Regions from separate parts of the Homo sapiens genome. Here all the other regions are linked to region 1. The links come from fine-mapping of genetic effects on gene expression. A gene starts in region 1. Each other region holds a variant in brackets. All regions are shown on one strand. Distances are between the middles of the regions. Region 1 holds the start of LINGO2 (leucine rich repeat and Ig domain containing 2). Region 2 overlaps LINGO2 (leucine rich repeat and Ig domain containing 2). Region 3 has its middle 69 kb from the start of LINGO2.

The links. PIP is the estimated chance that this variant, and not a neighbour inherited with it, causes the effect.
Region 2: its variant is fine-mapped to the expression of LINGO2 in whole blood (TOPMed, PIP above 0.99).
Region 3: its variant is fine-mapped to the expression of LINGO2 in whole blood (TOPMed, PIP 0.98).

Annotation. Positions count from the first base shown.
Region 1 is chr9:29,210,457-29,218,646 of GRCh38, reverse strand. It overlaps LINGO2 (leucine rich repeat and Ig domain containing 2), which reads left to right and starts at 5,046. Exons shown (of 7, transcript NM_001258282.3): 1 at 5,046-5,725. RefSeq lists a silencer at 6,406-6,455.
Region 2 is chr9:28,863,683-28,871,872 of GRCh38, reverse strand. All of the region lies in intron 2 of LINGO2 (leucine rich repeat and Ig domain containing 2), which reads left to right. It overlaps MIR876 (microRNA 876), which reads left to right and starts at 8,167; the gene lies at 8,167-8,190. The variant T/C (reference allele first, on the strand shown) is at 4,616.
Region 3 is chr9:29,278,088-29,286,277 of GRCh38, reverse strand. No RefSeq gene overlaps it. Among named protein-coding and RNA genes, the nearest start is that of LINGO2, 69 kb to the right of the region's middle. The variant G/A (reference allele first, on the strand shown) is at 3,994.

The sequences.
Region 1 (8,190 bases):
GCACTGCAAACACTATATGCCATTTTCCAGGAAGCCATCCCTTATAAATTCTGGTTCTATCTATTATAGGTAATCCTTAGTCAGATATCCTACTAAGGGCCCAAAGACAACCCTCTTCCTTCTAGCAAATACCATTAGTCTATTTACCCAGGGGAGGTAGAATTGACAAGGAGATTAGACCTGCTCACTTGTTATGGACTAAACGTTGTACCTTCTTCCCACCCCAAATTCATGTGCTGAAGCTCTAACATCTAATGTGGTGGTGTGTAGAGATGAGACCTTTGGGAGGTAATTAGGGTTAGACAGGTCATGTGAGTGGGACCTTCATGATAGGATTAGTTGCTATATAAACTGTGGCTGAAATGTCTCTGTTTCTTTTTCTCTCTTCCCCCCAACACACACTGAGAAAAGGCCATGTGAGGACATAGTTAGAAGGCAGCTGTATGCAGGCTAGGAAAAGAGCCATCACCAAGAACCAAATTGGCTAGCATCTTAATCTTGGCCTTCCAAGAACTGTGAAAAATGTTTCTCACAGAACTCCAGAACTGTGAGAAATACATTCCTACTATTTAAGCTACCCATGCGGTGGTATTTTGTTACAGTAGTCTGAACTAAGAAACCCCTTTTTGCTTCTTTCCCTCAAGGTCTCTCCCTGGCAGGAGTAAATGAGCAAATGTATTGCAGGCCAGGTTATTTCACAACTTTCACCTACCCTTTTTAAAAACAACAACAACAACAGCAACAAACATCTTTTTTAAGTAAAAGGCGGAGATACATCTGTTATACTTTTCTTTCCATGCAACCCCTCAAAGGCACTCTTTTATTTTATAAGGTAAAACTTACACACGGTTCCAAAATCAAAAGAACATAAAAAGTCTAACCTCTACCTTTGATACCATCTGCCCACTTACACCATGACCCCAACCAATTTTATTAATTTTTGGAGACAACACCTTGCTTCACCTTGCAATTTTCACCTAAAAATATCATGGAGACCTTTTTATACCAATTAAGGAGAATTTCCTCATTATTTTACATAGCAGCTTAATCTTCCATGATATGGATATTTTGTATTTGTACTGTAATGATCCAAGGTATAAAAGATGTTTTATAATATGAGCTGTTGAAATTGACAACTATAACACATTTCTATGGCATGTTCCTATGTCATTCTGTATTCAGTGTTGTCTGTGTTCTGAGGCTTTTATTTTTATTAGTTTTAAAATTGTGGCAATTAGCCAACATGAGATCTGTCCTCTTAATACATTTTTAAGTGTATAATACAGTATGGTTAATTATAGGCACATTATTGTACAATAGATCTCTAGAATTTATTCATCTTACACAACTGAGATTTTATAATAGCCTCCTCTGTTTTACATAAGAGTATCAACATGGAAGTAAACAATAAAAAGTTTTCTATATCCATAAAATTCCCAATGGCCTGACTCCCCTCTCTGAAAGGAAACCCATAACTCAGCATTTGGCATTCCCATGAAAATAATGCCAAGAAGACACTCTCCTATTTTAACCCAATAAGAGAAGTAAACTGGTCCTGTGTTTTGATACTCAAATAGATATTGACTCGATTGCATGAGAGGTAAGGAACTCATTTTTAAATTTGCCTCTTTTTAGCATTAACAACATATAAATTCCTTTTAGCCTTGAATAATTGAAAATGTGGGGACCTGGCTATTTGAACAGAGCAAAATGATGAATAGTGCAGGCTTCAGAGTCAGAAAGATACTGTGTAGGTTCCATACTTAATTGTGACAAAACAGATTTGTCACCTTAGGTAAATTTGCATAAGCCTCAATCTCCCTGTAATTTGAGGACATAAAATTTAGGTAAGCAGGTTGTAAACAGGATCAACTGATATAATGTACATAAATCACATTACATAGTCATTAAGTCATTACTCAATACATGGTCGCTTTCATCATCATCATCATCATCATATACATCTATTTTATTGTGTACTAGATTCTGTATAGATTCTGGGGAACAACAATGTAAATGACAAGATCCGTGCTCTCAGAGCTCACAGTACAGTAGCAAAGGCATACCAGTAAAGAAAGAATAGCTTTTATCTATGAAAAGACAGTACACCAATAGACTGAATGCTATGCTCTAGAGAAGTAAAAGGTGTTCTGAAAATGGCAGTTTGTAGAGAAATGATCTTAAGGAGGGAAAAGGATCAAGATGTTTCCATTGGAAGAGATATCATATATTTCAAATTCAATTATCAGAAAACATAAATACATAGACAACACTGGAATAATGCTGTAGTTATTTTAATTTGGTGGTGAAATCAGATTCTTGGATCTGACAGTATCTTTGAGTCTCAATAGTTTCTTTTCAATTCCATAGATAGACCTAAGGGTAGCGGGAATGGGGTACATCCTCTGATCCTGAGGTTTGCTCTCCTTGTTTGTTAAATAATTTCCCCCATAAAAGCAAAATGTAAAAGGCGAGGGGGAAAAGGGTGATCCTTATCCTCTTCCATTTTTTGAACAGGATCCATAAATCTACAGGTTTTTATTATTTTTTTTGAGGGTGCTTAAATGTCAAGAATATTATGCTATGGATTACCACTACTGCATACACATCGCATACATCAAAAACTCAAAGCAAGTAAAAAGACTTCGCCATGGCTGGTACAAGACTTTCCACAACATTTCCTACCACTGTAAGGCACCCTTCACGTATTAAAGTTAATGAATATGTAAATAACCTATGTTTACTTTAAACAGAAACTTCAGTTGCAGACAGTGGCCTGCATACCAACAGCAACCAAGAAAGGAATTTGAAGTCACAACCTTTTTGGAGAGGAGTCGCTCTAAATTCTGAATTTTCTTGAACCAAGTGAGTCTCTTCATTACAGCTCTGCAATTCATGCCTAATAGTCTGCAGAATATTTTATTGGTAATTGATAGGCTTATACAATCAGAAATCATAAGTTAAAGATGGCCTTTTGTTGGAAATAGTTTATTATAATTCTTATTCCCACTTCATTATCAGGAACAGTCATTTATTAATTAGGAATAAGAATTAGAACTCGAAGAGGCATCAAATATTGCGGCACGCAGACAATGTATAGATTCATACCAGGTTCCAAAATACTGCCGAACATCCTCCTCTTGAAAGGCTGCAAAAGAGTCACTGTCGAAGATACATTTTAGGACATCAAACCTAAAAACTCAATCCTGGCAAACTAATACACACGCAAACAAAATGCCTCTTTTTATTCCTTAGCACCTCATCACCGATTTCATTATTCACTTCTTCAGGCAAGCTGCGCGGGTTAGCTTCAAGCTCTTCCCTTAATTGCACCAGAAGTTAAGTCTGGGCGTTGGACATACACACTCTAAATCCTTACGCGTGGGTCTGTCTGTGAACAGCCCGGAGCAGCGGAGCAAGTTAGTGGGAGGGTATCGCCAACTGTCTGCTCGCTCCAAGTGGCAGCCTTCATGGATCCATCACCCCTAAACCCACAGCCCCTGTCACTGCCTCTGCACTGAGTCGGCTCAAACAGAATCCAAAGCAGGTTCATCCCTGAAATTCAGACTTGCGCCTGAAGTTACCGGTCCGGAGCCCCTGGGAGCCGCAACGCTCACTGTGGAATGCTCTGGATCGATTTCAGAGCTGTGAGTAGCGCTGCTAGAGGTCATCCTACAAGTTTCATCTTTTGTATTAAATCTTCACTTCTGCGCTCTGCGACTCCACGTTTGCCGCTCAGGAACTCGGTTCCCGGCAAAGTCAACCGCCTTCCAATTTGGAGAGGGACAGTCAAGAACTCCCTTGATTTTGAGGAGATTCTCGATGGAGACGGCGGCGGTGGGTGGCGGAGCGGAGCATCCAGCGCCAGAGCAAAGGAACCTGGTGCCATCTCCAAGCTGGGCAACTTTGCGTTTTCCGCTAGCAGGTCCGAAGCCATAGATATTCGCGAAGCCCCAGAGGGCAGAAATCCTCAGCAATCCTCTGTCTCACAGTTGAAAAGGCAGAGTAGCGCTCTGTTGCAATAGAAACTACGCGGAGCACAAATGCAAGCTTTGGTTAAAAAAAGCACAAAAAACAAAAAAACAACGGGCAAAAGTTTACTCTCTGTAAGCAATTAATTCCTGCAGCCCATTCCGGGTAAAACAAACTCCTCTTGGGAAGCTCCTTTCGTGGGAGTTGTGGATGACACGGGGGCGCTTCTGAGAGCGAAGTCTCTCCTGCCTGGGACGCCCCAGCGGTGTAGCACCCAGTGATCCCTCCCGACCGTCGAGGGAAGAAAAAGAAGTTGGGACAGGAGCTAGCCAGAGACCCGGACAGCTACTCCTGGTGCAAAACCTTGGAAATGGCTGCTAAAGGGGTTGGGTCTCCAGACTCCTAATCCCTCCCCTTTCTCCAGCTGAGCCGTTCACCTGCTACCGTCCAGTTTACAATATAAGCGTAGCACCTAAATTAACCCAGTTCCAAAAGCTAGGCACTACAATTCCCTAAGAAATTCATTTTCAAAACATCTAAGCGACTTTCGGGAGCTCCTTGGGGGAAATGTTACGAAGGGAGTGGGCAGGTAAAGACGGGATGCGAGGGGATTATGTTCACGAAGCGATGTGTAGGCTCCTCTATTCGAAGGACCTCGGGGAGCCCCTCAGCTCCCAGGAGAGCTGCTGCAGCCACTTCAATTCTCCACTACAGAAGGGGCGGAGGTGGCCCCTGGAGGGTGGCGATGGGAACGGGGCTCATCTTTAGTCTGGTGGCCTCTCGCTGGGTGTCGAGGGGGTGTAACTGGCTTCAAGAAAAGAGCTAGGGAGTTGAAATGCCAGACAGGGCAGAGAACGGAGAGGTGGCCCAACGGACTTAACGGCGTGCGGCGAGGAACTGCCTGCCGGCAATCCGCTAACTAGTGAGGATTGATTGACTCTTTCTGTCATCAGCATCCTTGGAACCCCTACCCCTCCTCAGGACTCCCGACTTTTCGCTCGCCACTGGCCGGGGGCCGCGGGCGCAGGGCTGGGCGTGCGTGTGTAGCTGCGCGCGCGCGGGTGTGCGCGCCTGTGTGTGTGCGCAGCCCGAGCTCTGAGCCCGGCTGCCAAGCCCCAGCCGGCTATCCTGCGTCCCGCCTTGCAGCCGCCTCCTCAAAGCCTCCTCACCTGGCGCCGCCGCCCGCCGCCCGCCCAGCCCCGCACCGGCGCTGCCTCCCCTGAAAGTTTCCCCAGCGTAGACACCTTCGCGCTGCAGCAGCCCAGGGAGACGGTGTTCCGAAGCTGTGCCTTGGAGTGGCTCTTCTTACACCTTTCCGCCTCATCCCCACCTAATTCGGGCAGGGAGTAGAAATTTTTCCAAATTAAGGGGAGAAAGGGGGGAGGGGCATTATCGAGAGAAAGCAAGAGGAGCGGCCGCAACTGAGAATATCCTGCCTGATGCCAGGGAATTGACTGACGTGTCTGTGGGGTTACGGAAGAAAACTGAATAGGCAGCCAAGTTGGCCCAGGAGGGGCTGGGAGGCTTCCGGGTGCCGGGAAGGTGGTCCCGGTCTCCATTTCCACTGGTACGAAGGCTTGGAGGCGCCTCTATGGTGAGGGCTTTTGAACCGCCATCCCCTCCTGATCCCTTGGAAAGGAGGAGCCTTCAGAGCTGAGGAGGGGGAAGTCCAGGAAAAGCCCCTGGACTTGTGTGCGTCGCATCCTTGGCTTGGGATTTTAAGGACACGAAGGAGAATTAACAGCGCCTCAAGGTAAGAGGCAGCAAAGCTGCTGCTTGAATTGCCAGAGACAATAACTTAAAATAGATGTTGGGGATGGGGTGGGGGTTAAGTCAAGTTAGGAGGATCTCTCCGGGCGTCGCTACGCGATCGCACGACCCGCCTGGCAAGTCAGGGAGTAGCCGGTGCGGCGCTGCCCAGCTGCGAGGCAGGAAGCCAGAGGAGTGTCCTGTCCTCACACTTTCTGAAACCTATTGGAAAACGATTTCGGACTGGGTTCTCTGTGGAGGTTGATATACAGCGTGGATTTGGGTTTTGGGTTTTCGTTTTTTTACCAGAGAGGTTTTTTTTTTAAATTTTTATTAGCACCGCAGACCCACCCCCAATTGCCATAGAGAGCTGTGGGCACCGGTGAACGCAACTAGGACGCGGTGGCAGGTGAGCCTGGCGCAGGTGGGCAGGTGGGGGCGGCGGCGGCACCCGGCCTGCGGACTCGGGGGCGCGCGAAGCCCACGCTGCCGCTTGGCCGGCTCCCTGCAACCGGCGTCGGAACCTGGGCGCCGCAGGTCGCCTGCTGTTCCCTTCGCCTCCGCTAGAGGCTCCCAGCGGGCGCCGCGGAGCGGGTGGGTGTGGGGGCGCCAGGAGGCGGCGGGGTGAGCGCGGAGAGCCAGCGTGCTCGCGGGGTGGCGGAGCCCGCGCGGCAGGGGCGGGGGACGTGAGCGGCAGTCCCGGCGCGCTTCCGAGCTCCGCACCGCGCCGCGGGGACGCAGGTCCGAACCCGGCTGAGCTCTGGAAAGCTGTGCCTTGAACTGGAGCCACTTCGGGGATGAGATCCTGACCCGCACCCTGAGGGCAGCCCCGGGAGGTAATGCCCTCTTTCTCCTCCACTCTCCTTTCGCCTCTTGGTTCTCTGTAAATTCTCAGTCAGATACTCAGGGTGGGAGGGAGTGAAGGGTGAGAGAGAGTCTATAGGGTCTGTATCTAAAAAAGGTGCCTTTCAGTGTTGCTCCGTGGTGCTCTGTTGTATGTGTATTCGAACTAATGCCCAATTTCCCCCGCCTCCCTTGAATATTTGGCTGCTTTAAGGGAAGTTTTTTGCGGAGAACGCTGGGTGGTTGGTCTGGGCCAGGCTGCTCCGAGGTGAGCTAGGGGACCTGCTGTGCCCGCTTTGAGCCGCAGTAGACTGGAGTGCAAGACTCCAGGGATGGGGTGTGGTGGAGAAAACGAGTACCACACCCTCTTCTTTTCCTCTTCACCTGCTGGTGAAGTCTCCCCATTCAGCATTTTGCTGATTTCCTTTTCCGAGGGATTGGCTCAGAGAACTGAGGAAAGCTGCTGAAATACTTGGAGGGAGGGAGGGAGAGAGAGAGAGAGAAGAGAAGAGAAGAGAAGAGAAGGATGAGAAGGAAGTCATGGTCTGAGCATCAGAAGAGGAAGGAGGGCGAAGTTAAGCTTGTGTGTTTGAGGTGGGGGAGTGAGTGCTGGGAAATGGCCTTGGAGTTCAGTTTATTTGATGAAGTCAGATTCACTTCACATTTCACACTTTGACATAATCCAGTTTGCTGAAGCCACCTAACAGATATTATCTGTGCTGTGTACTGCCTTGGGCTCAGTGGGCACTGAATATGTTTGATGAGTGTGTCTAAGCAATAGATAAATAAATAAATGAAAGAGTGCTTATTGTGTTTGCTTGGTGTGATTACCCCCGTGTCTGTCAGCCGGTAATGTATGTATTTTTCAGCGTGCTGTGCTGTGTTTGTGCATACCATATGTGGTCATTTTACACTCAGTAATGCAGTTTCAGGGTCTTGGAAAGGTGGCTCTTAACAAAGACGAATATTTAGAATAATACTAAAGGAAGACCAAAAATTACCATCGGGTGTGGAATATTCCAGGAATACTGAATAGAAGCTGAGATCCATCATTGGTGAAAATATTGGGCCACATACTGAAAGGGCAAAAAATATTTTTCAGAAATTAGAAGCAGTGGTTAACATTTTAAAAGAAGGAGATGTTCTTTAGGGTTCTGTCACCATCACCCAGTAGCATGCGTTACTCCCAATACAGTTGGAGTGTGAGGAAGAAAAAAAAATGTACTTCCTGTTCAAAACCAGTAAAATGTTTTGAGATCTGCCAGGTATTTCACCTTAAGAATTTAAATGGAATGGATTGCCTATTGATGGCAGAAGTGGTTTAGTTATGTAAGGCATCTATTATTTTTGATTAAGGTACATATATGTTAATATTTTTATATAATTTTACTGTAGTGGGAATGGAAGCAGGACAATTTATTGATGTTTTTCATTGCTGAATAACACATAGCATTATCTCAGGGAAGATTTATATAAAGTTTGTCATTCATGTATTATAGTGGATGATGCTCTGTGTGGAAGGCAAGAATATATATCTTGATGAAGTCCCAAAAAGGATCGTTTGTGTTCTTAAAATACAGTATTTTAGAAATTTTTATGGTGTGAAAAAGTGATACTCATCTGAAT
Region 2 (8,190 bases), 350 kb after region 1:
AACCAAGCATTTTCAAAACCATAGGAGATAAGTACTAGTATTCATATTTTATATTTAAGAAGGTAAGGCTCCAACATATAAAGTTCACCCAGTTAATGCATCAGAACTGGGATTTGAACCAACGTCTCTCATTCTTTCATGCTTATTTCACTCCTTATGTAGTGTTTTCAGTAGATTGCTCCTTCTACTTGTCATCTTATGTGCTGCAAAGATAAAAACCTCAGAGGTTTGAAGATGCAAATGTAAGCATCATTTGGTTACACTATAGTATAGCTGACAGTGTTCCTAAGCTTAATATTTTTATATATTACATAAAATATATAGTTCATTTTCTTATTTTCTATATTTTAATGCTGAATATATTGTCATATGACTAAGGTAGTAACACAGAGTATATGAAGTAAAATGTTGAAATCTCCTTTCTACTGCCACCATTGCTTTCCCTCCCACTTTCCATTCCTATTTCCTAAAAATAAACATTTTAAAGAAGTTGGTATGTGTGTTCTAGAGTGTTTTCTATATGCATATATATTTTCAATGAGCTTATATTATGAATATTGTTCTATTGTTTAATTTCATTTTCAATTAGCAGATTATTATGGCCACATTTTCATATAGATTTGCTGTATTTTAAAGTATTTATATATTATTTAAATATAATTTAGGCTTACCTCATTATTATATACCTTTAGTATCTACATAGCAATATTGAATTATAATTTATTTAACAATTTCCTTATTTATAAATATTTAAATTGGTTCCCACTTTTAATTCATTAAAAGTTGCCACAATCATCATCTGTCAATATATTTTACTCAAATGTAAACATTTCTGTAGATGTCTAGAAGGAGAATTTTTAGATAAAATTGTGTGTTCATTTTGAAATTTTGACATTTCCTACTATGTAGTACAAAAAAACATGGCAACTTACACTATTATTAATGAAACAAAATTTCTATTTTCTGTCGCCTTTGGCTGATACATGTTTTAATTATTGCCAATCTGATGGAATAAATATCTTGATGCTGTTTTCATTTGCTTTTTTAAAATATAAATTAAGTGAAGCATTTTCCCATACTTGTTGATATTTCTTTAGTACGATTTAAAAGTTCAAATAATTAGTTTACTTTTCTATGGTTTTATGTCCTTTTTTGTTGCTTCTTTTTATGCTTTTACTTATGATTGCTATAGACACCAAGTACGGTATATAAGCTGCAAATATTTTCTCCACATCAGGTATTTTTCTGTTCCAGATGACTAAGGCACAGTTTATGACCTCAGAAGGTCAAAGAATTGGAAGACAGATAAACGTATAAACCAATACACATGAATAGAAAATACTATACTAGCAGTAGGAACATTGGTCTGTGGGGTCCTGATAGAAGCTATAACCTCTGTATGGGGAGTCAGAGAATGTTTCACAGTGGACGTTATATTGGAGCTGTGTCTAAGATTGAACAAGAATTTTCTAGGAGGAGAAATGCAAGAAGTACATAAAGTCATTTTATGTTCACAATCATGAAGTTATATGTTTAGGTTAGAGTGGGAAGTACAGGTGGACTGGAAGATGACACACATGGGGTGGAATGGAAAAAAATAATGTTGTGCAGTTCGATTGTTGTCAGATCGTAATAAACTTTGTGGATTTTATGAAAAAGCAGTGCCTCGAAAATGAGGTATTTAAGCAGAGGATTACAAATATCAGGTATGGTTTAGAGAAAATGAGTAAAAATTGTGTACCATTTCAATGAACTGGCCATGTGTCTACAAATGGGAAAATAAAGTAACAAATCCTTCAAAGAGTGAAGGAGGGACTCAATATAAATGCATGTTATGGGTTTTTTTTTTCTGATTCTGAAGTGTTTTTAGCTTTACTGTTAATACTTTTATTTATCAGGTATAATAACGTTGGCTTTGAACATTGACTGATGTGTCCTTTCCTTTAAAGACATTTTTATGTAAGGGGAGGGAAGAATCGAAAGGCAGGGTAGGGTGTAAAACGAGCCCATAGGGTACTGAATCTTGGTGGGAAATTGGGAAAAGGGTGCTATGTTTATTATTTGTAGTAGGTGCAACAGTGGGAGTTGCAGTGTTGAAGGAGACATTGTTGTCCAAAATCACCTATTGATTTTTGACCTATTGATCACCTATTGATTTTGGACCTATTGATCACCTCTTGATCTGTGGGCTCCTTGAAGACAGGGACTAGCCATTTCTCATGCATCTTGTGTCTTCTTCCTCAGGCTCTGTCTACCACACAGTTCAAACCACTGGACTTTTAGCTAATTTTCATCTTTTTTCTTCCTGCTTGCTATTTCTCTGTCATACATAATTTAACATGTAGTTCCTAATTCAGACACATTGTCTCTTGAATTTCGCAAGTACTGTTTTCTTTATCTGGAATAGCCTTCTTTCTGTGACCCCTCCCCCCACTCCTTGTTCATCCTCTGGTCACCTGGTCAAATACTTTTAAACCCTCTATAGAAGTCAGGCTTCGTCTCTTTTGAAAAGACCTTTCTTATTGTCTAATTCTGATTAGCCACTTCTTCTGTAGGATCCTACACTTGTCCGTCATTACAGTTATGGCTGTACTGGAAATATTTGCAGATTTGTCAGTTTACCTGATGACTCTGAGCTCCCTGAAGGATGGAACATTAAGTATTCCCTTTGATTCTTCAATGTCTAGCCTAGTTTTTCCCTCATAGTAGGGGCTCAAAACATCTTTGATGAATGGATAATTAGATGTTTATCAAATTTAAACTAAATTTGAATTCAGTGTTCTAACTATGCCTGATCTTTGGCAGTGATAAATATGTATTTAATAAGTATATCATTTATTTTTATCCCATATTTAACAAATAGTCCTGAGCTAAAAGCAGGCCTGGAAATTTGTTATATTATCAAATCAGCGAGATATAAATTCCATCAAATATATCAGTAAATGATAATTGTGTATATAGTCACTTAAATATTGCAAATGTTGTGAGTTGGGGGCTTAAATAATATATTCCACTACTTTCTATCTTCATCTGCAAAACCACAGTGCTAAGCTTAATTTTCAGTTGCAAAATTTAATCTTTGAGGTTTGGAACAAACTCAACCCACAGGAACCAAATTATGTTTGCAGTTACTCAGCTGAACTGCTGTTCCAAATATAAGATTTTCATTAATGAGAGAAATAATAAGCACTGAAAGTTTACATGTTTTTAAAATGCTTATTTGTTTTCTGTTCTCTCATTCCCTTTCCAAAGGGGCACTCATTTATTCTCTTCAAATAACTAAACAATTAAATTTACCTACAAAACACTGGACTATTATGTGGACAGATTTGAAGTAGGATGAGTTATCTCTCAGATGACAGAAAATTACCCATGATGCCACTTTCGAAAGGCATCAATCTTGAAGCAGGGAGAACAAAAGAGAAAACATACACACATAACCACATGCATGCAGACACACACACATGCTCACTCACTCACTCACTATTCTATGTAGTCTCTGAGTAAATGTAGAGGTCCACTTTATAAACTGGATCTCTAGATATTACTGCTTAGACAAATGATCTTTGACAGTGAACTAAACCCTTCAATGACTGAAAAATACTTCCTGGAGTATAAAATCAAATGTCATCAATGAGGACTTATTCACAGAAAGGCATATTCAGCTGAAGGCAAATAAGTCATAGTATACTTCTGAAGGCAGGAGACTTTATTAAGTGTAAGCAAAGTTAACGACACACACTAGGTTAACAACATTCTTCCAAGCCTCTAGGGATCACCTATAATGAGTAAGAAAGGAAAGATTTGTAATTGAGATATTATCTATTTTTGTATAAATGGATATTTTACATAAAATCCTGAAAACTTTGTCTTAAGTAAACTGGATGCTTTTACAAAATGTTTAAGTATTATTAATATGTTTTATTATTTTTGGGTAAAAGAATTGTTTCATTGTAGGGCAAATGTATATTTGATTCTGTGTAAAATTTATAATTCAAACTTTATGTTTTTACCTAATTTTCTTTTCTCTATATATTTCACAAACACTATAGGTAATGTTGCATACTGGGACGTTATGGGGCAAAGACAAAACATGAGCTTTTAGACAAATCTAGCTCTGTTATTTAAACATTTGTTTAACCTTGGACAGATTACACTTTTTTGTGTGCCTCAACTGCCACGTGTTGAAGGCAGGGATTATGTGTTGTCTGTTGTCAGAAATCAGAAATAAATGAAGTAATACACATGCTTTATGGGTGCTTGATAATGAAAGTTTTTCTTTTTAAAAAATAGTTAAAATTCCAATAACTTTGTGATTCTCTGTAATTTATGGCAAATGTTTACATTGGTGCAGTAGGGGTAAGAGTTTGTCTTCTTTTTTTTTTTTTCTTTACTTGAAAGACATAGAGCCTGCCACATATTTAGCTCAGCTATGGCTAGCACTTGCTTATTATTGTTAGCAATCACTTGCTTTTATACCCTGACTTGCATTGTTTATTTTCAATATTTCAGGGCAAAAGAGAGATTTTATGAGAAAAGGGAGAAAAAAATAACCAGTAGGAGGATTGTATTTACTGTATATGCATTTTTCATTTCCTGTTCTATTTTTATTTTG[T/C]ATTATTTTACTTGCTCTACTATTTTCATTCTTTTTAGCTTTCATCACCAGGAAAGGATGCAGGCTTCCTTCTGAACTTGCCTTCCCACTCAGTTTACCAGCAGCATTTGTCATATTAGTGGTGTGATTTAGCCCTTAACTGCAGATTCCTCTGTCAGTTCTGCAGCTGTTTTACTTCCTGTCACCAGCAGTAGTTATTTTAAATAGAGCTGATATTATGGCCTGTATTTTGATATTATCTCTACCTTATTTGTTTTATTTCAGTTTTCTTGCTTGTGTGGGTTGAAAAATGTAAGATACAAGATTCTAAGAAATAAGGATGAATCTAGAAAATAAACTATAGTACAGAATAAATTTCTGTTTATACTTTTGAATCAGAACTAAGTTACTCACTTTAAGACCCCACCAACGACGTCTGTCCTCTAATAAACCTGATGCCTAGTTGGAGCCCAATTAAAAAGAATTCTCCATTAGCTGGAATTTACCCCCCGGTGATAGAAGAGTAAGAGAATAAAGTTAATTATATGAATTCATGCTCACATTAGTGATTTTCACACTAACAGCACTCAGAATTTTTTGGCAAAAGCAAAAATATCAATCTACTTCATATCCTGTAACTGCCTGCAATGTACCATATTGTGTAGCACTTAAGTCTAATTCACACCACCCTTCTTCTCTGCCCTGGGTGCCCTGGGTGTTGGCCTTCCTCCTCTCTGCAGCCTTAGAACTTGGAAAATATTCCTTTCATAGCATTGATTATAGGGTTTATGCTATAGTTCCTAATTGCAGATTCAGAATCACTTTGTATGCCCCGTGGTACTCTGAATTCCTTTGGGGTTAGGGACCTTATTTTTCAAATCACAAGCATAGATGGAATAACTGATGCACGGTTATTAACAGAGATGTTGACCACAAGTAGAAAATGACACAGGGGTTCTGGATAACCTTAAAAAAATACAATAAAGCATTCAATATGGTAATTCATTATAAAATAACTGCCTATTTTTGAAGTTAAATAGTGCAAGAGTTTGAAAAAATGGTGTTTTCTAATAATCAGTGCACCGGAAAATTAGTTCAACCAGAACATTTCATTCTCAGTGCATATCATTTATCTACTTATATAAAATAGAGAGCATATTTGACAGAAAATGTGGGAAAATTTTCTAAATTAGCTGAATGCTGTCTAAAGAGGGACTTGCATGAAGTTTTCTTGCATTCAGATTCACAAACCAAGCAAAGCCAAGTACCCGACTAACATAGAGTGCTACATATGGAGAGCATATTTGTCTTGTTTAGTGAAAGAATAGCAACAAGAGGTATAAAATATTGTAAAAACACACCCTGGATTATTTCACTATTATTATTGGATCAACTTAATTTTACATTTGGATTGGAATGGTTATTCAAAGAGCCACTTAAGATCTCTTTAAGTTGAGATGATTGTTTTTTGTTTCTTTGTTTTGTTTTGTTTTTTGAGACAGAGCCTCTCCCTGTCACCCAGGCTGGAGCGCAGTGGCACGATCTTGGCTCACTGCAACCTCTGCCTCCCGGGTTAAAGACATTCTCCTGTCTCATCCTCCCGAGTAGCTGGGACTACAGGCGCAAGCCACTATGCCCGGCCAATTTCTTGTATTTTTCTAGTAGAGACGGTGTTTCTCCATGTTAGCCAGGATGGTCTCGATCTCCTGACCTCATGATCCTCCCGCCTCGGCCTCTCAAAGTGCTGGGATTACAGACGTGAACCACCACACCCGGCCAGGGTGATTTGTTTTTAAACCCATGTCAAACTCTAAATGTATTCCACCCAACTAGTATGCCTGAATTTCACTGGGGAAACTGGCCTGATTCTTCAAGAGGTTTTGCCTGGGCCAGTTTGGGATTGAGTGTGACACTTGATGAAGAGCTGGAGGACCTTTGTATAACTGCTCCTTTACTCTGCCCATATTTCAGACAGGTTGCCTCATTATTCTGGAGTTCTCTTACTTCAAATTTTTCTGTCCCTGCTGCCTCTGATCTGGTGATGCTCACTTGTGTTCACCTACTCTAACTGTAGCAGCAGTTTTCCTTTTCAGCTATAGTATACCAAAAAATAAAATAAAAATCACGTTATTTCTTTGGATAGGCCGTGGTATATGTGTTCTCTTCTGCTTAGAACACTTACCCCACCCTTCTCATTGCTAATTCCTGCTACTCTTTCAGTTCTCTTATATATGGTATTCCCTTAGAGAAGACATCTGTAATCAACGCTCTTAGCACTGAATTAAGTGGCCTCTCCATGTCTCCATTAGCCCTATATGGAAACTTTTCATAACACCTATTACTGCTTTTTTCAAATTCTTGTTTTCTCCTTTGTATTTCTTGAAACCTGGAGTTTTTATATCCCCAGCATCTAACCAAGACTATGCCTGGCACATGATAAGCGCAAAACAAATATTTTTTTTTCATACATACATATTTTCTACAAATTTTTTATTTAAATATTTTTAATTATTCAGATACTTAGCAAGTTTGGCTTGGTTGTTATATGTGTGGTTGGTGGAGGTGAGTAGGGTATTCCTGAGCAGTGACCTACACTGACAGTGGTGAACTGCCTAGGACTCTTATGTTCATGAGCTTCTATAAAGCAAACTTTTAATTAATGTTGACATTTGATGGTTACTTTGAAAAATGTTGAAATTTTCAAAAGCATGAATTACTTGATTGATATTATGCTTACTAGGCTGGGAAGATTTATAGATTCTTTTCATTAATTATAAATGAAACCTTTCTTTTTGCTCTTTAGATAAAAGTTAAAAGGTGGGATTCTGGTTATTTTGCAAAGGAGAGTAACTTTATTGTTTGTTTTTCATTTTTTATTGGTGTGGTTTTCTTTCAGAGTTGAACCTAATATGTATAATATAGAATTTAGTTTTATAAACATTCTTGGACTTCAGCAGTCATATGAAAAAATACTTACTTGGACAAATATCAGAGGAAAAAACACTCAGGTTAAACTCATTTAATGATTGCCTTTGAACTTTTATTTTAAGTTCAGGGGTACAAGGGCAGATTTGTAACATTGGTAAGCTTGTGTCATAGGATATGAGATTATATGAGTATAAAGTGGGAAGCTAAGTAACTGAGGATATCTTTAGAACAAATTATCCCAGCAACACTTATATACTGTGATATGGATGTGAGAATTACATATAGTTTTATTATTTATTCTACTCCCTACTCCTGACATCTATATTAATAACCATGCCCTTTTATTTTGATGAGCAGAACCCTGTTTTTTCATCCTGCATAATGTCATGCTAGTTATTGTATTAGGAATTCTTTTAAATGAAATTTACTGGTATATAATATAGAAAGCATGCATTTATTTTTAAGTTTTATTTACTTAAAATAAATGTTCAGTGTTTCTTGTGTGTTTCAGCTAAAAGAGGGTGGTGCAAAACTGAGCATATTCTTCAATTGATTGTGAACTAGATGGAAATACTTCCTCAACTTTTGGTGGCCAAAGGGTACTGTTTTTGTTGGTTCATAGGTACCAGGCTTTACACAAACTGTGAAGTGCTGTGGATTTCTTTGTG
Region 3 (8,190 bases), 68 kb before region 1:
GAAGGTGTAGTTGCATCCCACAAGATAGTAACCTTACTAAGTTTTCCAAGCCAAAGTTAGCCCACAATCACTGGACAACCCCTCTGGAGTACAGGAAGGCCAAGGCCAACATTGGCTCATAAATGCAAAGAGGGAGTCCAGGAACCACCATGTTCAGAATCCTCTCATCATCAGGGTGGCACATATTTACAAACCACACAGTAGGAGCAAGAAGCCAAAGGCTTCTTGGCCTTTGGAATCAGAAGTCCCTTCCTCCCACGAAGTTCTTCCAGTGCCCTCTATTGACATCGCTTAATATTGTGCTTGCAGCAAAGAAAAAAATGCTTAAAACTTCCTTGTGGCAGAGCAGATAAAACAGGGTGGGTTTGATTGAAAGTGTGAGGAAATTAACTGATAATTGGCACAGAAAAGGGACAGAGGAAGACCTCCGGGAATGGTCTAGTACTTCATCTGTGTGATAGTAACAATAAAAGGGTTCTCATTACATCTATTATTAAACTGCAAAGTAATATTTATGCACATATACTATATGTCATAATAAGATGTTGATTTTTAACAGTTATATCATGTGAGTCCCAAATTTCTTAAAAAATGGAAAAAATAAATAAAAAACAAGGTAATATAGGCAAAATTGTTTTGAATGACATGAAAAATGTATAATCCAATATAAGGAATTAAGAATTTGCCATTAGTTTTGAAAAGTCCACTTTTTGGAAAAAAAATATATAGTCAGGGTTCTCCAGAGACACAGAACTAACAGTATGTATCTGATTGGATATATCTCTTTCTAGATATATACTATGTATGTCTATATACACACATATATATCCTATTGATATATCTCTTTCTTAATATCGGTATCTATATTTATACACATACACATATATACATAGATGCAATTGTTCCTTGTACAACATGGGGTTGCACTACCTGGGTTTTCTTATATGTGAATTTTTTTCAATAAAAGTTACACCAAGTATACCCACCTCTCTTGCCTTCTCTTTCATGCCCCACCCCCCACCTCTGCCACCTCTGCCACCCCTGAGACAGCAGAGCCAACCCCTCCTCTTCTTTCTCCTCCTCAGCCTAGTGAATTTAAAGACAATGAGGATGAAGACATCTATGAAGATCCACTTCCATTTAATGAACAACAAATATATTTTCTCTTCCTTATAATTTTCTTCATAACTTTTTTCTCTAGCTCACTTTTTTGTAAGAATACTGTATATAATACATATAACATAAAAATATGTGCTAATCAACTGTTTTGTTATGAGTAAGGCTTCCAGTAAATAGTAGGATATTAGTAATTATGCTTTTAGGGAGTAAAAATTTGTGCATGAATTATTGACTGCATGGGGAGCAGTCAGCACACCTAACTCCCACATTGTTCAATGGTCAACTGTATATCTAGTAAGAGATTTATTATAAGGAATTGCCTCACATAATTACGGTGGCTGAGGAGCCCCATAATCTGCTGTCCATAAGCTGGAGACCCAGGAAAGTTGGTGTATTTCAAGTCCAAGTCCAAAGGCCTGAGAACCAGGAATGCTGATGGTGTCAGTCCCAGTCCAAGGACAAGAGAGACCAATGTCCCAGTTCAATAAGTCAGGCAAAGAGAGTGAACTCTGCGGTCCTCCACCCTTGTATTCTATTCAGCCCCTCAAAGGATTGTACAATGCCCACCAGCATTGGGGATAGCAATCTGCCTTACTCAGTCTACCCCATCAAATGCTAATTTCATCCAGAGACACTCTCAGACACATCCAGAAATAATGTTTAGCCAGATATTTGGGAACAATCATGCTCCAGTCAAGTTGACACATAAAATTAACCATCACAAAAGCAAATATTTACTTATAAAGTGATATTACTGCCAAAACATTCCAAGAGCTTAAAAATCTGCTTGTATTTCACTGAGAACAAAGAGCATGTACACAATTATTTACTTAAAAAGTAAGCAGTCTCTTATTGTTTGATGAATAATATTTTAAGCTATAAGTGACCTAATATTATCTAGTCCAATTATTAATGTGTAAATATGGAAATATTGATACCAGAAATATTAGTGTTTTCAGCTAGTAAACATCAGGGTCAGAATTGGAAACCAAATCTCCTTACATATAATTCATGTTCTTCCCTGAAGACTGTGTTTAGGATCTTAAGAAATCCCCCACGGGTGCAGAAATTTTATGAGTTTGAATGGAAGCAATGGTTATGGTCTGCTTCCATTTTCACTCATTTGATCTTTCTTCTTTTGAGTGGGTTTGAAGCTGAGCTGTATTACAGATCGGTAGCCTCTGGCAGTGTGAGAGGAAGATGAGCCTACCATAGTGGAATAAAAAATGAAAAGTGTGATAAGATGTAATAAAGTAAAATAAAATCCTTGCTTAATGCCCCAATAAACTGTCAGAGTTTGGGTATGGCGGCTTGTTGGGCTGTGCTTAGATGGGAGCAAGTGAGATCAGCACAGTGTTGAGCGAACATGCTGTTATTTAAGTTTTCAAAGTCATTTGAGTTAACAAAAAGAATGAATAACAGCACAATGTGCATCTCATTATGATATTTAGTTTTGATTAAAATCCAGCTTAAAGCAAATATTTGAAGCAAAGTTTTAGTTTATCTTATATTTACTTACATTTTAAAATAATAAATTCTGAACCAATTCTGTCATAGAGTTCATTAATTGTTTAACAATATGCGCTCAGACAATTATTACTATATTCTCATTGAAAATTGAATGCAGGCTATTTGAGGGACTTAGACAGAAAAACTTTTTCTTACTGAAAATCAGAAACCATGAGTCCTCTGTTGAGTTTTGACTTGTGAAGGAACCGTTTCCCTGAAATAGCTCTGACATCTTTCATTACCTGTATAATGTAAAATGCAGCCATTCAGCAGCTGGATGACAGTGATAAAGTGCAAACTAATAGTGTTCACCCTCTGCACTAACCCTGATGTACCTGGCCTTTTCAAAACAGGGAGGCTAATGTCTAACAAGTCATGTAAAAGTCAGAGTGAATGAACCTTAAAGTAAAGGCAACATAACATCCTTTGCATTGCAGTTTCCCTTGAAATAGCATCACTTTAAGTTCTATGTCAAAGCCAAAAGGCAGCGATTCTGGCTAAGTTTTGAAATGTGTGTTAACTTAACCAGAAAACAATCCAGTAAAAAGAAGGTTGAATCACTTACTGTCACTTGACAGTTTTAGCAGTCAGTTTTTGCTTTGGTAATCCAAGTGCTGGTACTGGCTTCAATATACTTTCCCTGAAATTAGAAGTAAGTAATTTTCAGTCAAAAGCCAGAGCAGAGGTTTATGAAATCATAAATTATTTTCATTGTAAAAGATACTGGGAATGGGAGACTTTCTTCTTGAATACCTACTAAGGACTGATGTTTTTGCATTTATTATATGCAAAATGAGTATGCATAACCTTGAAAAGTTCTTACTTTTTCTCATTTATCCTAATTATCCCACTGACCAAAAAAGCAACTGAAGTTCAGAGAAATAAAGGAATTGCTCAAAATCATGAATTCAGTAAGCGATAAGTCTCATATTTGTTCATATTTTTGTTTTAAATATATAGCATAACTCCTGATTTAAAAATGAGATATTCTGCTAATAACTATATTTAGAGCAGTAAAAAATACATAGTACATATATTTGGTTGGTTAGTTTAGTAATATTTTGCCTCATTCTCTAATAGAATCCTGGATCTACATCACACTTCTGAGGTTAAATGAGTAGGAAAAGGAGAGATTGTCAGAAGTGATACACTAGAGAAGAAAGGGTGATTGAAAAAATGGAATAGACAATTAGTAAATCAGGACTTAGGTGATCTGAGATTTAAAGCATATCAGCCTAAGAAAATACAATTAGGAGAAAAAGATTAGGACTTCAGAGAGGAAATAAAATGCTTCCTCAGCTCTGACTTAATCAGCCTGAGGGTTGTATAGTCATGATTTGTTTCTCTCCACTTCCTTCTTTTAGA[G/A]ACCTCTTAAATATTTTAAAGGCCTTACACATTCTCCTTTAAACAGAAACTCCAATAGAGAAAAAGCTAGGGCTTGATCTTTCAATAATTGTAAGTTACCGTTTGCTGCCCACATTCTTAGGACAAAATTTCGAGTTATATTTCCTTAGGGTGAAGATAGAACATTATTTTCTTAAGGAGTCTGGTTCTTCAAGAGGTAGGATTTTTGATTGGCTAAGTGTTGTGTTTTCAGTATGCCTTATGCTTCAGAGTCCTTCAAAAGGGACCATGGTAAATGTTCTTCACATTAAACTTTAATGTTATGACTATTAAGAATGAAATTTTATATTTTCAATGAGCCCAACCATGTACATTCCTCAAAGCACCCATCCAAAGGATTAACAAATAAACAATTAAACCCCATGTGTTAGAATGGAATTTCATACATTTTAAAGATATACAATATTTGATATATTGCTTAAAAAGGTAAGAACTTCGGATCATCAATCAACAAAGTTAAGGGTGAGAACAGTGGTTCTTAATTTGGGTTAATTTTGCCCCTTAGAGACTTTTAACAGTGACTGGAGGCATTCTTGGTTGTCACTAACAGAGGCTTGTGGTACTAGCAATTAGTGGGTAGAAGCCAGGAATATGGCTTAATGATTGTCAAAACACCCCTCCCCTCAACACAGACCCAAAACGATCTGATCTGAAATGTCAATAGTTCTGAAGTTGCAAAACCAGGGTCTAGAGGATGGTTAAAAGATATGTTTCCAAGGTACACAGTAGCACAAAATTGCAGACTTCATTGGGACTGTGGGCTGTGTCTAGGCATCCTAGGGGCACTGTTCCCACGGAAAAACCTATCACTAAGTTGACTGAAATCAAAGGGTAAACCTTGAGGCTGCTAGTCCTAACTGGCAGTGGAACTTATTTAATTAAACATACAAGCAGAATTGGAAATAAGAACAAATAATATGATGTGTAGGCTATAGGTTTATATCAGCTGTTACCAAGTTGTGATCCATGAGTCAAATGGAGCTCACAATATGGTCTTCAATTAAATTTCAGTATAAGAATTTAGAAAGCTGCCTCCTTCTTGCTAATTTTCTAATATGAAACACACAGACACACACACACAATTTTTTTTTCCATTAGAAGTATTTTGTACAATAAAGTTATTAGAGTTGTATACATTTAGTTTTTCCCTTTGGGAATTAGTAAAGTAAAAGAGAATTGAATATGTTTTTGTTTCCTGTTAAATGATACGCTCTCTTGGTATTGGTGTTTTTTTTAATTCTATTGTAGTGTTTAGATATTTTTAAATGATCATTTATCATTTTTTAAAAGATATATTTTAAAACTATTTTGTTAAATGTCACTTTAAATAGTTTTATTTTACATAAATTGGTTCTCATGCAAAAAATGCTAATTAAGGGTATAAATAACTATGAGTCATAGGAATCAGTATCTCTCTTAGGTGGACCATTAGAGGGGAAAAGAATACCCCAGTTTTAGGATAATAAACTTATTCAGTTTAGTGATGGCAATAAACTAGTATTTCCTGGAAATTTCCAACATTTCTATCTTTCTGTTTCAACTTTTATTTTAGATACAGAGGGTGTATGTACAGATTTGTTACATGGGGATTATTGCATGATGCTGAGGTGTGGAGTACAGATCCCATCTCCCAGGTATTGAGCACAGTACCTGATAGGTAGTTTTGTAACCCAGCCCCCGCTTCACCCTCTAGTAGTCCACAGTGTCTCTTGTTCCCATATTTATGTCCATGTGTACTCAATGTTTAGCTCCCACTTATAAATGAAAACATGAAATATTTGGTTTTCTGTTCCTGTATTAATTTGCCTGGGATTATGACCTCCAGCTCCATCCATGTTGCTGTAGAGAACACGATTTCATTTTTTTTTATGGCTACACAGTATTCCATGGTGTATATGTATAACATTTTCTTTACCCATTCCATCATTGATGGACACCTGGGTTGATTCTATGTCTTTGCTATTACGATGAGTGCAGTGATGAACATACAAGTACAAGTGTCTTTTTGGTAGAATTATTTTCTTCTGGGTACATACCCAGTAATGGGAATGCTGGGTTGAATGGGGTTTCTGTTTTAAGTTATTTGAGAAATCTACAAACTGCTTTCCACAGTGGCTGGACTATCCCTCATGAACATAGACACAAAAATCCTCAACGAAATACTAACAAATCAAATCCAGCAGCACATCAAAATTAATATACCACAATCAAGTAGGCTTTATTCCTGGGATGCAAAGCTGATTCAACATACGCATATCAATAAATGTTGATTTATCATTTATTTTATTGATTTACTACATTATTTACCAATTTAATGATTCACCACATAAACCAGAATCAAAAGCAAAATCATATGGTCTTCTCAATAGATGCAGAAAAAGGTTTTAATAAAGTACAATATCCCTTCATGATAAGAAACTTTCAACAGACTAGGCATGAAATAAATATACCTCAAAATAATAAGAGCAGTCTGGGTGTGGTTGCTCACGCCTGTAATCCCAAAACTTTGGGAGGTTGAGGGGGCAGATTGCTTGAGCTGAGGAGCTCAAGATCAGCCTAGGAAACATGGCAAAACACTGTCTATACAAAAAATACAAAAATTAGCTGGGTGTGATGGTCCACACCTGTAGTCCCAGCTACTTGGGAGGCTGAAGTGGAAGGATCGCTGGAGCCCAGGAGGCCAAGGCTGTGGTTAGTGGGGACCATCATACTGCACTCCAGTCTAGGTGACAGAGTGAGACCCTATCTTGAAAAAATAAAAATAATAAGAGCCTTCTACGATAAACCCACAGCCAACATCATATTGAATGGGCAAAAACTCTAACCATTCCCCTGGAGAAGTGAAACAAGACAAGGATGCCCACTCTTACCACTCCTATTCAACGTAGTACTGGAAGTTCTAGTCAGAACAATCAGGCAAGAGAAAGAAATAAAAGTCATCCAAATAAGAAGAGAAGCAGTCAAAGTATTTCTTTTCACTGACAATATGATTGTATACCTAGAAAATATTAAAGACTCTACCAAAAGGCTCCTAGAATTGATAAACAACTTTAGTAAAGTTTCAGGATACAAAACCAATGTACAAAAATCAGTAGCATTTCCATATACCAATAACGACCAGGCTGAGAGTGAAATCAAGAACACAATCCTATATACAATAGCCACAAAAAATTGAAATACCTAGGAATACAGCTAACCTAGGAGGTGAAAGATCTCTACAAGGAGAACTACAAAACACTGACAAATGGAAAAACACTTCATGCTTATTATGGATAAGAAGAATCAATATTGTAAAAATGGCCATACTGCCCAAAGCAATTTTCAGATTCAGTGCTATTCCTATCAAACCACCAATGTCGATCTTCATAAAAATTTTAAAAAACTATTCTAAAGTTCATATGTAACCAAAAAAGAGCCTGAATAGCCAAAGCAATCCTAAGCAAAAAGAATAAAGCCAAAGGCATCACATTACCCAACTTCAAACTATATTATAAAGCCACAGTAACAAAATCTGCCTGGTACTGGTTTAAAACAAAAGCAAAAACAAAATAAACAGACACATAGACCAATGGAACAGAATAGAAAACTCAGAAATAAAGCCACACACCTACAAGGTGATCTTTGACAAGGCTGACAAAAACAAGCAATGGGGAAAATAATCCTTATTCAATAAAAAGTACTGGGATATCTGGTTAACCACGTGCAGAAGATTGAAGCTAGACCCCTACTTTTCAGCATATGCAAAAATAAACTCAAAATGGATTAAATATTTAAATGTAAGACCTCAAAGTATAAAAATCCTGAAAGACAACCTAGAAAATACTCTTCTCAGCATTGGCATTGGCAAAGAATTTTCAACTAAGTCCTCAAAAGCAATTGCAGCAACAACAAAAAAATAGACAAGTGAGACCAATTAAACTAAAGAGCTTCTGCATAGCAAAAGAAACTATAGACAGGGCAAAAAACCTACAGAATGGGAGAAGATATTAGCAAACTATGTATCTGACAAAGGCCTAATATCCAGAATCTATAGGGAACTTAAAAAAATCAACAAGCAAAAAACAAATAACCCCATTTTAAAAATGGACAAAGGACATGAATAAACACTTCTCAAAAGAAAACATACAAGCAGCCAACATACATAGCTCAGCATCACTA